Linked DNA regions of Homo sapiens: region 2 is linked to region 1. The links come from fine-mapping of genetic effects on gene expression. Tissue or cell type: lymphoblastoid cells. Region 1 holds a variant in brackets; the other region holds the start of a gene. All regions are shown on one strand. Distances are from middle to middle.

Region 1 (5,247 bases):
TATACATTTATGGTTGTGCCCTAGGGCTGTATCAACTCTTCTGCCCTCTGTCACAGTATAGTCCAAAGGGACCTTGATTGCCTGGACGTTCAGTGAAACATCATGATCCACTCTACTGATGATAGCATGTTAGTCAGTAACACACTTTGGCAATGCCCTACAAACCTTTTCTCCCTTGCATTTTTATTACACTTGTTTGGTAAAACCATAATTTACATGATAAACTTTTGATTTTGTTCCTGTAGAAAATATAAGGGCTATGTTAGAAAGTCATAAAAAAGGGCAGTTTGGTTTTATGCTAAATTCACGATTACCAACCTCAAATGATGACTTTTATTTTCTCTAAGAAATTACTTGGCTGGCTTTTGGTGTGGCAAAGGAAAGGCACTAGTGTTTGAGGAGAGTAGAGGAGGTTTGAATTTGTCATTATGGAAAGTGAGAGAGTGAGGTGGTTAGAAGAGAGTATAAAGATCAGGTAGTGTTGAGGGCCGTCTTTGGAGATGAGCTACCACAACAGTTGAGGCATGGAGTATCCTATAATCATGTTTCCTCCCATACTCATTTTTGGAGATTTCCTGGCATTAATAATTGCTTTGTTTTATATTTGTGTAGTTTGAAATGTGTCTATTATTATTCTGTCTTCAAACTCAACAGCACTCTAGAATTTCTCTCAATACCATGGTCTATCAGTTTTTGTTTGTTTGAGATACACTTTTTAGTACCCCCTCTTGCCTACTCCCCATCCACCTGCTCCAGTACAGACTGAATGGCTTTTAGTGTGCTGCACAATTTTTAAAGTGGGACTTTCCTTCACCACCATCCTAGAAATTTCTTTTGGCTTATTTCTGTTTTCAATGACCTGTTTCCTAGGTAGCAGAGACTGCTGGTTGTTTTCCAAGGTCCATTATTCCTTTCCTTCATAATAATAGAACTCCCTGTTTTTTTAAAATTATACTTTAAGTTCTAGGGTACATGTGCACAATGTGCAGATTTGTTACATAGGTATACATGTGCCATGTTGGTTTGCTGGACGCATCAACTCGTCATTTACATTAGGTATTTCTCCTAATGCTATCCTTTCCCCAGCCCCCAACCCCCTGACAGGCCCCGATGTGTAATGTTCCCCGCCCTGTGTCCATGTATTCTCATTGTTCAACTCCCACCTATGAGTGAGAACATGCGGTGTTTGGTTTGCTGTCCTTGTAATAGTTTGCTTAGAATGATGGTTTCCAGCTTCATCAATGTCCCTGCAAAGGACATGAACTCATCCTTTTTTATGGCTGCATAGTATTACATGGTGTATATGTGCCACATTTTCTTAATCTACTCTATCATTGATGGACATTTGGGTTGGGTCCAAGTCTTTGCTACTGTGAACAGTGCCGCAATAAACATATGTGTGCATGTGTCTTTATAGTAGCGTGATTTTTTTTTTTTTTTAGATGGAGTTTTGCTCCATTGCCCAGGCTGGAGTGCAGTGGCGCAATCTGGACTCGCTGCAAGCTCGGCCTCCCGGGTTGCCATTCTCCTGCCTCAGCCTCCTGAGTAGCTGGGACTACAGGTACCTGCCACCACACCCGGCTAGTTTTTTGTATTTTTAGTAGGCACTGGGTTTCATCGTGTTAGCCAGGATGGTCTTGATCTCCTGACCTTGTGATCCGCCCGCCTCGGCCTCCCAAAGTGCTGGGATTACAGGCGTGAGCCACTGTGCCCGGCCCTGTAGTAGCATGATTTATAATCCTTTGGGTATAATGTAATGGGATTGCTGGGTCAAATGGAATTTCTGGTTCTAGATCCTTGAGTCGCCACATTGTCTTCCACAATGGTTGAAGGAATTTACACACCCACCAACAGTGTAAAAGAGTTCTTATTTTTCCACATCCTCTCCAGCATCTGTTTCCTGGCTTTTTTCTTTTTTTTTTTCTTTGAGACGGAGTCTCGCTCTGTCGTCCAGGCTGAAAGGCAGTGGTGCGATCTCGGCTCACTGCAAGCTCCACCTCCCGGGTTCACACCATTCTCCTGCCTCAGCCTCCCGAGTAGCTGGGACTACAGGCATCTGCCACCACGCCTGGCCTTTTTTTTTTTTTTTTTTTTTTTGTATTTTTAGTAGAGATGGGGTTTCACCTGTTAGCCAGGATGGTCTTGATCTCCTGACCTCGTGGTCCGCCCTCCTCGGCCTCCCAAAGTGCTAGGATTACAGTCGTGAGCCACGTTTCCTGACTTTTTAATGATCGCCATTCTAACTGGCATGAGATGGTATTTCATTGTGGTTTTGATTTGCATTTCTCTGATGACCAGTGATGATGAACATTTTTTTCGTATGTTTGTTGGCTGCATAAATGTCTTCTTTTGAGAAGTGTCTGTTAATATCCTTTGCCCACTTTCTGATATGGTTGTTTTTTTCTTCTAAATTTGTTTAAGTTCTTTGTAGATTCTGGA[T/C]ATTAGCCCTTTGTCAGATGGGTAGATTGCAGATATTTTCTCCCATTCTGTAGGTTGCCTGTTCACTCTGATGATAGTTTCTTTTGCTGTGCAGAAGCTCTTTAATTAGATCCCATTTGTCTATTTTGGCTTTTGTTGCCATTGCTTTTGGTGTTCCAGTCATGAATTCTTTGCCCATGTCTATGTCCTGAATGGTATTGCCTAGGTTTTCTTCTAGGGTTTTTATGGTGTTAGGTTTTATATTCAAGTCTTTAATCCATCTTGAGTTAATTTTTGTATACGGTGTAAGGAAAGGATCCAGTTTCAGCTTTCTACATATGGCTAGCCAGTTTTCCCAGCACAATTTATTAAATAGGGAATCCTTTCCTCGTTGCTTGTTTTTGTCAGGTTTGTCAAAGATCAGATGGTTGTAGATGTGTGGTGTTATTTCTGAGGCCTCTGTTCTGTTCCATTGGTCTATATATCTGTTTTGGTACCAGTACCATGCTGTTTTGGTTACTGTAGCCTTGTAGTATAGTTTGAAGTCAGGTAGTATGATGCCTCCAGCTTTGTTCTTTTTGCTTAGGATTGTCTTGGCTATGTGGGCTCTTTTTTGGTTCCATATGAAGTTTAAAGTAGTTTTTTCTAATTCTGTGAAGTAAGTCAGTGGTAGCTTGATGGGGATAGCATTAAATCTATAAATTACCTTGGGCAGTATGGCCATTTTCACGATATTGATTCTTCATGAGAATGGAATGTTTTTACATTTGTTTGTGTCCTCTTTTATTTTGTTGAGCAGTGGTTTGTAGTTCTCCTTGAAGAGGTCCTTCACGTTCATTGTAAGTTGTATTCCTAGGTATTTTATTCTCTTTGTAGTAATTGTGAATGGGAGTTCACTCATGATTTGGCTGTTTGTCTATTATTGGTGTATAGGAATGCTTATGATTTTTGCACATTGATTTTGTATCCTGAGACTTTGCTGAAGTTGCTGAAGTCAGCTTAAGGAGATTGGGGGCTGAGATGATGGGGTTTCTAAATATACAGTCATGTCATCTGCAAAGTTTTAGTTTGATACATGGATACCAAAACAAAAACAAAAAACATGTCCCAAACTGCCTTAAAGCTAAGTGTGGCTATGTGACTGAAAGCTGACCAATGAAATATAAGCCTTAGAGTCTGGTTCATGGTAACTCAAAGTGCTGAACACAGTGATCTACACATACTTGCACAATAAATATTTGTTGACTTACTAAATCAATGTTTCTTCAACCTTGGAGACCCTTCTTTCCTGACAGAGCTTTTCTTGCTTATTGAAATCTTAGTTTTCAAGGCTACTCTCAAATACCATATCATCCAAGAAGTTTTCCTTGTCCTCTCCTCCATTAGAGTTATTTCTTATATTAATGTTTATACTTCAGTTTGGGGAATTACAGCTGATACTCATTCTCTTGATAGTGACTTCTGTGTGGTTGTTATAGTGGCTGGGTTTCTTTGATATGAAGAGTATTGCATACTATTCTATGACATTTTTACCACTGCTTACCAAAGAGAGAAGGTGCATTGGCTTGTGGGGAGAAAAATACCTTTTTAGGCTTTACTTGTTTCCATTGGATTGTGTGTTTCGATTGAAGGTCGTCTTTATTTTTTATTTTCCTTGCCTTGCTCTGTGTCTGGCATTATGACATAAGAAAATCAATTGATTTTGACAAAACTTAGTGGCCTCAAGAAAGCTGAGGTTAAAGGGAAGAGAGTTTGAGAGAACATATGCATACTCAGACCTTGGTTTTCTACAACAGCCTAAATTTTAACCAGACAGTTGTCTAATCATGCAACACAAGCAAGGGGAGTGTAGTTGAATGATATTGTCAGAGTATTGTTCTGTGATGGCTCAGATGCCATTTCCACAGAAATATACCTGCTTGCTTGATCATGCTGGTCAGAGCAAAATTTCCCACGTGCTGGATGCCATTTATGCATTTAGCTTGATGGGTTACTATACTACTGATGATCTATATTTCCTGTCAGTTGCATTTTAGTTATTCCATCCTGGGAATACTGCCATTCATTGTGATTGGATTTGGATGTTCCCCAACTGTTCTTGGGCATGACATTAAAAAAAAAGGTTTTTGAACAACCAGCTAATCTTTATTGTGCATGGAGACACAGTAATTATACTCCCATAGGCGCTTTTTGTTTCTTTGGTCTTGGAGCATCCCTCAGCAACCTATTCTGTGGCTGATGGTACAGTAGCTATTAATAGTTTATACAGGAGGTTGGGCGCGGTGGCTCATGCCTCCCACCACTTTGGGAGGCTGAGGTGGGCAGATCACCAGAGGTAAGGAGTTCGAGACCAGCCTGGCCAACATGGTGAAACCCTGTCTCTCCTAAAAATACAAAAATAGCTGGGCATGGCGGTGGGCACCTGTAATCCCAGCTATTTGGGAGGCTGAGGTAGGAGAACTGCTTGAACCCAGTAGGCGAAGGTTGCAGTGAGCTGAGATCACACCATAGGACTCTAGGCTGGGTGACAAGAGTGAGACTCCATCTCAAAAAAAAAAAAAAAAAGATTTATACAGGAGTTTCTGAATTTGCTAATGTTCTTGGGAACTCAGGTGCTCTAATTGTCAATCCATTGTGGCATAAGACATCTGTGTTCTGTTATCTTCTCTGAATGAGTAAGTAACTCTGCTTTCAACAGTTACCCACCTTTTTGAAGAACATCTGACTAATTTATGAAGTATCTGGATTTTAAAAATTATTAGCATTTTAATTTTTCCTAGCTGAGGTGCTATGATAACATCAGGATAAAACTGGCTTTTGGCAGTCAGT
Region 2 (5,247 bases), 44 kb before region 1:
GTGATAGATGTATTCTCACCCGGGATAGTGGTGATATTGTATTAAGAGGGAAAAAAAATAAATAATAACCTTGAGGTTTAACCTGAGGTATGTGTTGAATAAAAAGCCCAGCTTATCCATTTACAGTATATATACAGTGAGAAAAGTTGGAAGGTTTTCAGAATTCTGAATGTCACCTCATATCATGTGTTAGTGATCTTCATGATAGATGGCATAGATCTAAAAACCATTTTTTTTTGCTAAAATAACAATGTGTAGAAAAAAAAATAATCATTTTCCTAGCAAATGGAGAGAACTGTTCAAAAGATAAACCTCTCTGGTTTGACCTAAGGTGCAGGAATACAGTTGGCATTTAGGCTGACCCTTATATTGGTAATTTATGTAAAACAGTTTTTTCTTTCCAAGATTGCATAGTGTATAGTAGGAAAGTGAATAGACAAATTTGATCTGACCCATTTTTACATCACTGGGAAACTGTTTGTTTGTTTTTTAGAACACTGTTATTTTGAGACAGGGTCCTGCTGTGTCATGCAGGCTGGACTGCAGTGGTGCAATCATGGCTCACTGCAGCCTTGACCTCCTGGACTTACATGATCCTCCCAACTCAGCCTCCCGAGTAGCTGGGACCACAGGTAGGCCACCATGTCCAGCTAATTTTTTTTTGTATTTTCTGTAGAGATGGGGGTCGGGGGGGTGGGGGTCTTGCTGTGTTTCCTGGGTTGGTTTTGAACTTCTAGACTCAAGCAATCCTCCTGTCTCAGCCTCCCAAAGTGCTGGGATTACAGGCATGAGCCACCACGCCTGGCCTGCTAATAGTTCTTAAATGCAGCTCTTATCTTATTACTTCTGCAGTTAAAGGCCTGTTTAATGCTTGGCACCTGACTTTAAAGCTGACTATAATATAGCACCATCCCAAATTTCCTCAGGCTTGTTTCCTCATTGTTTCAAACATATATTGTTTCAAAGACACAATTTTTATGTGTGACTGTTTGCTTATATTGTTTAACTTCCTATTGTATTTGCTTTTAATAAAGTCTAATAGATGCTATGAAAACAGCCTTACAATCTCTTTTTCTTTTCATGAAGCTCACTGTCTACTACAATGCTTAGTGTGCCATTTAGGAGGACCTATGAGGAGGGAGTTTTGCTCAGGCTTCTCTGCTGCATAACCAGGAGGCTGATTTCTTACAGAAATTACCACTTGTAATTATATTTCCTTTGTTGCTTTCGCTGGCAGGAAACTCTAAGTTTATGAATCTCTTCTTTAATACTAAATAGATTCTTATAGCATGACTTTATTCGTATTTTTTCCACTGACCTAATTTATTGTTCTGGCCTTGTGGGAGAAGGGGCAGTGGTCCTCTTTGCCTTTTAAATTCAAATACTCATGTATTTTTGCAAACCATTTCAAATCTTTTTTTGGATCTAAATGGAATAGGAATAACAAATTTAAATTAATGCTCAACTTGCTTATTTATAGACTTTTTGCTCTTGTTTTCCTTTTTTCAAACCTCATCCAGCCCTCAAATCCAGCTTTTCCATGCACCCCTTCATTCTTCACTGATCTCCATTTTCTCGGAGCTCTTGTGTTAATATAATTTTGCATTTTACTAAGTATGATTTTGGATACCTCCTAGTGTTTCATGTGTATTAGTCCTGTAGTTCTGGGTTGTAGTTTTTTTAGTGGTAGGGACCATGGCTCATACTTTTCTGAATCTAGTAAAATAATATTGTATCAGAAATGCTTTCTGTTTACACTATAATTGTAACAAACATTGAATTTTTTAGCTTATTAACTCTCAGAGCACCCAGTACATCTTATTTAGAATTGCAGGAACCCATTTTTGTTTCTCTACAGCAGCCGAAGCTTGTTTCATAGATCTTGCAAGACTATTCAATCATTCAGTTAAAATTCCTTGACCTCCTGCTGGATGATGTTCGACAGGGCATTCATCTTCACGACACCCTTCGCGATGAATGGTAACATCTGGGCGGGTAGAGGTCCATTTCTACAGCAACCTGGGGGAGGAACAGGTAGGGTAGGTTTTGGTGTGGGTGCGATTCTTGGGGACTTCTTCAACAGGTAGGACATCAAGTCTGTAGCCAAAACAACACCTGGGCGAAGGGCAAATACCGGAGCCCCGACCGGCTCACGCCCAGTAATGCTTTCTCTGGGTTCTAACTACGTGATCAGGTCGTCTTGGTTTGCCAGGGAAAGCCCAGCGTCTTGACAACCCTGTCAGTTCCGAACAAACCGGGTCGATTGGTCACCGGGGCTCGAATCCCGACTGATATGACCCAGCGGGGACAGAGGATCCCCCTCAGTGCCACAAGTACATTCCCCACCGAGCAGCGCGCCTGCGCCAGTTGCTCTCATGCGTCAAGACTACAGGTCCCAGCAAGCATCGAGGCCCTCTCCAGGCCATTCTTCCGCCGGCGGGGAGCTCTCGTCGGCGTATTTGTTAGGTGTGGCGCGGAAGAGTCCGTGCGTGATGACGTCGACGCGGCGACGTCGAGCTCTTCCTCCTTTTCACGGCGTCTTGCATTACTATTGTGCGGCTGCAGGAGGTGTCGAGCGGCGTTATTTTTTTTTGCGGTTTGCCTTTTTTTTTCTTTTTTTTTTTTTTGGAACCGCGGTTGTTTAAAAGCCTGAGGGAACCTGGAGAGGGGCTCCCACTCCCTACCCTCTTTCCTCCGAGTTTGTGACTCCGAGATGGACAAAGTGTGTGCTGTTTTTGGAGGCTCCCGAGGCATTGGCAGAGCTGTGGCCCAGTTAATGGCCCGGAAAGGCTACCGACTGGCGGTCATTGCCAGAAACCTGGAAGGGGCCAAAGCCGCCGCCGGTGACCTCGGCGGTAGGTACCAAACTGGAGTTGTCCAGTTGTATGGCCGCGGTCCAGGCGCCTAAAGAAAATCTCCTTTGTAAAAAGAGCGGGTCTGGCCTTTAGGGCTCTAGGGTTACTCGATGTAGCCGCGTGCAGGCGCTCTCCCGTTCCAAGGGTAGAATGCGTCTCGTGCAGAAACCCGCGATCTCCCTATGCCTCGCAGAATGCCGGCCACGCAGCTTGCCGCCGAGGGCTGAACACTTGGGGTGTTCTTTGAGACCTCGTAGTCTTTTGAGGCCCCGCTATACGCACCCTCCGCCCTGCGGCTAGTGCTAACGCTGAGGAGCTTCCCTGTTGTGGGAGAGAGCCACGTAACAGTTTACTTTTAATGTAGGGAAAAGGGCGAGTTCTCGGCCCCCGGAGACAGGGCTGGGTCGAAAGGAGTTCAGGCAGGAAAGGTGGGAGTGCAGGTACCAACGGCTCCCTTCAGTTTTGCCCAAGGGCCGTGCCTTGGCCCTGCGCGAATGCACAAAGCAGTGTTTGATAGAGAAACCCTTTTGAGTACCAGCCAGTTTTGAGATATACCTGGTTTGCTTTAATGTTATTAAATTGTTTTGGTGAGTTTTGCAAATGGACAATTGAACTTTGTTCTGCCAAATTCTTTTTTATTGCATTTAAACTTCAGGGTTTTTTATTTCCGGCTTATTATGAATGGATTAGTCATTTTGTGAATATAACTCTTCATTGAGTTTAGGGAGAAATAGGACGTTAGATCCGAAGATGCTATTTGTTTAATCACCAGAATGGACAAAATTATACTTCATTTACTATCAGGGAGGCATGGGGAGAATAGAGGCCTAGGGGTGCGTCTTGTGGCTCTTACTGTTTTTGTGTATCTGGTTTTTTTTTTTTTTTTTTGAGAGGGCTTCCCATTATGTTGCCCGTGCTGGACCCCAACTCCTGATTTACTGGCTCTAGAGATCTTCTCGCCTCAGTCTCCCAAGGACCTGGGACTATAGACGCCAGGTGTGGCTGTTCATTTTTAAGTTAACATTATTGATCGGTTTGGTATCACCTGTTCAGTGCTGGTTGGGAGACTATTGGGCTCTCTAAAAGAAAAAAGATTCTGTAAGTTATAGGTCAGGGAGAGTGTCAGTGAATGCTTCTTGAAGCTCATATTCCTTACCATTCTAACAAAGGAGGGGAAGAGTGGTGACCCTTACTGTGTCACCCCAAGCCATCAGTGTTTGCTGGACTGGATTGAAGCCATTAGTTGGGCTTTCAAAGGTGGTTGTGGACACAAGTCTTCGGGTGAAAACCAAGAGTAAGAGAGACACAGGATGCTTTTGGGCCCTGCATTCCTTTGAATCGTGTTCCATGAGTGATTGGTTTTCATCTAGAAAGTATAATTCCCCGGGTCGCTTACTGTTTCCAAAGGCTTGATGGGGTAGTGTTGGTGTAAGCATATTTATCAAGGTCAGACAGAAAATAAAGAATTGTTTTAGCTTTTAAAAACAATCCTACATTTTAGAGTATTAAAATGGTAGATTACATAGGGAATGCTTTGTTTTCCTTTGAAGTGTAGTTTTTTTTTGGCATTTAACCATTTTTTAAAAGTGGTAAGTAACAGTTGCTTTTAGTAAAAAGTGTTTTTTTCCCCCCGTGGTTTGTAGTTTTAGCATTTTTATAGCTTCCTGTGTTGTCTCATCTCTCCTGATGGTCAGGTTTGAATAATAGTCGTTATAATATATGTGCCATAGTGCATCCGTAGCACTTAAAAAGAAGAAACCCAAGAGTTCCCGTTCAGGGCCAAAGAAACTAATTCAACAAAAACCTGACAGAATTAGACATAAATTTCAAAAAAGGAATATAAAACCCAGAAGACTGTCGAATTGGGTAGCATGAATTCAGTGTTAAAGCTATAAATATTAGATGAATCTTACAGAGCCTTTATAACTTGAAAAAGCCCTCCCCCCTTTGTTGATTAAAAAGAAAATTTTAAAATTAACTTTCTGTAGTAGTACTTTATTTCCTCTTTGTTCCCGCATCCCAGTTTCATTAGACCAACTCTATGAAAGCCAGGCCTCATGACATTACTTTTTTAATCTTTAGGTTCTAGATTAGCACAGGCCTGCCATCTTAGATAGATGCTTAACAAATGTGTATTGAGTAAATTTAAAATTTGAGTTATAAGTAATTCTTATTTAACTTTGTTGTGTAGGAGATCATTTGGCATTTAGCTGTGATGTTGCTAAAGAACATGATGTTCAAAATACATTTGAAGAGCTGGAGAAACATTTAGGTCGAGTAAATTTCTTGGTAAATGCAGCTGGTATTAACAGGTTGGTCACAGATTTAAATAAGTTTCTTATATATATATTTAAAACTTTTATTCCTAATATGTCTTTGATTGGTATAAGTT

Which allele goes with the higher level. Alleles are on the strand shown, and positions count from the first base shown. SD is a standard deviation of normalised expression in the study named.
As copies of C replace T in region 1, the expression in lymphoblastoid cells of the gene that starts at base 2,548 in region 2 goes up (moderate effect, 0.71 SD a copy in GTEx).

The links.
Region 2: it holds the start of CBR4, and the variant in region 1 is fine-mapped to the expression of CBR4 in lymphoblastoid cells (GTEx, PIP 0.98).

What each region holds. Positions count from the first base shown.
Region 1 is chr4:168,963,207-168,968,453 of GRCh38, reverse strand. LOC107986200 (a long non-coding RNA gene) reads left to right here and starts at 1,516. Exons shown (of 2, transcript XR_001741450.1): 1 at 1,516-1,561. It also overlaps a transcript of CBR4 not described here. The variant T/C (reference allele first, on the strand shown) is at 2,440.
Region 2 is chr4:169,007,556-169,012,802 of GRCh38, reverse strand. CBR4 (carbonyl reductase 4) reads left to right here and starts at 2,548. Exons shown (of 5, transcript NM_032783.5): 1 at 2,548-2,855; 2 at 5,047-5,167. The coding sequence starts at 2,714. CBR4-DT (CBR4 divergent transcript) reads right to left here and starts at 2,374. Exons shown (of 2, transcript NR_185919.1): 1 at 2,347-2,374; 2 at 1,743-2,019. RefSeq lists enhancers at 2,169-2,498, 2,598-3,547.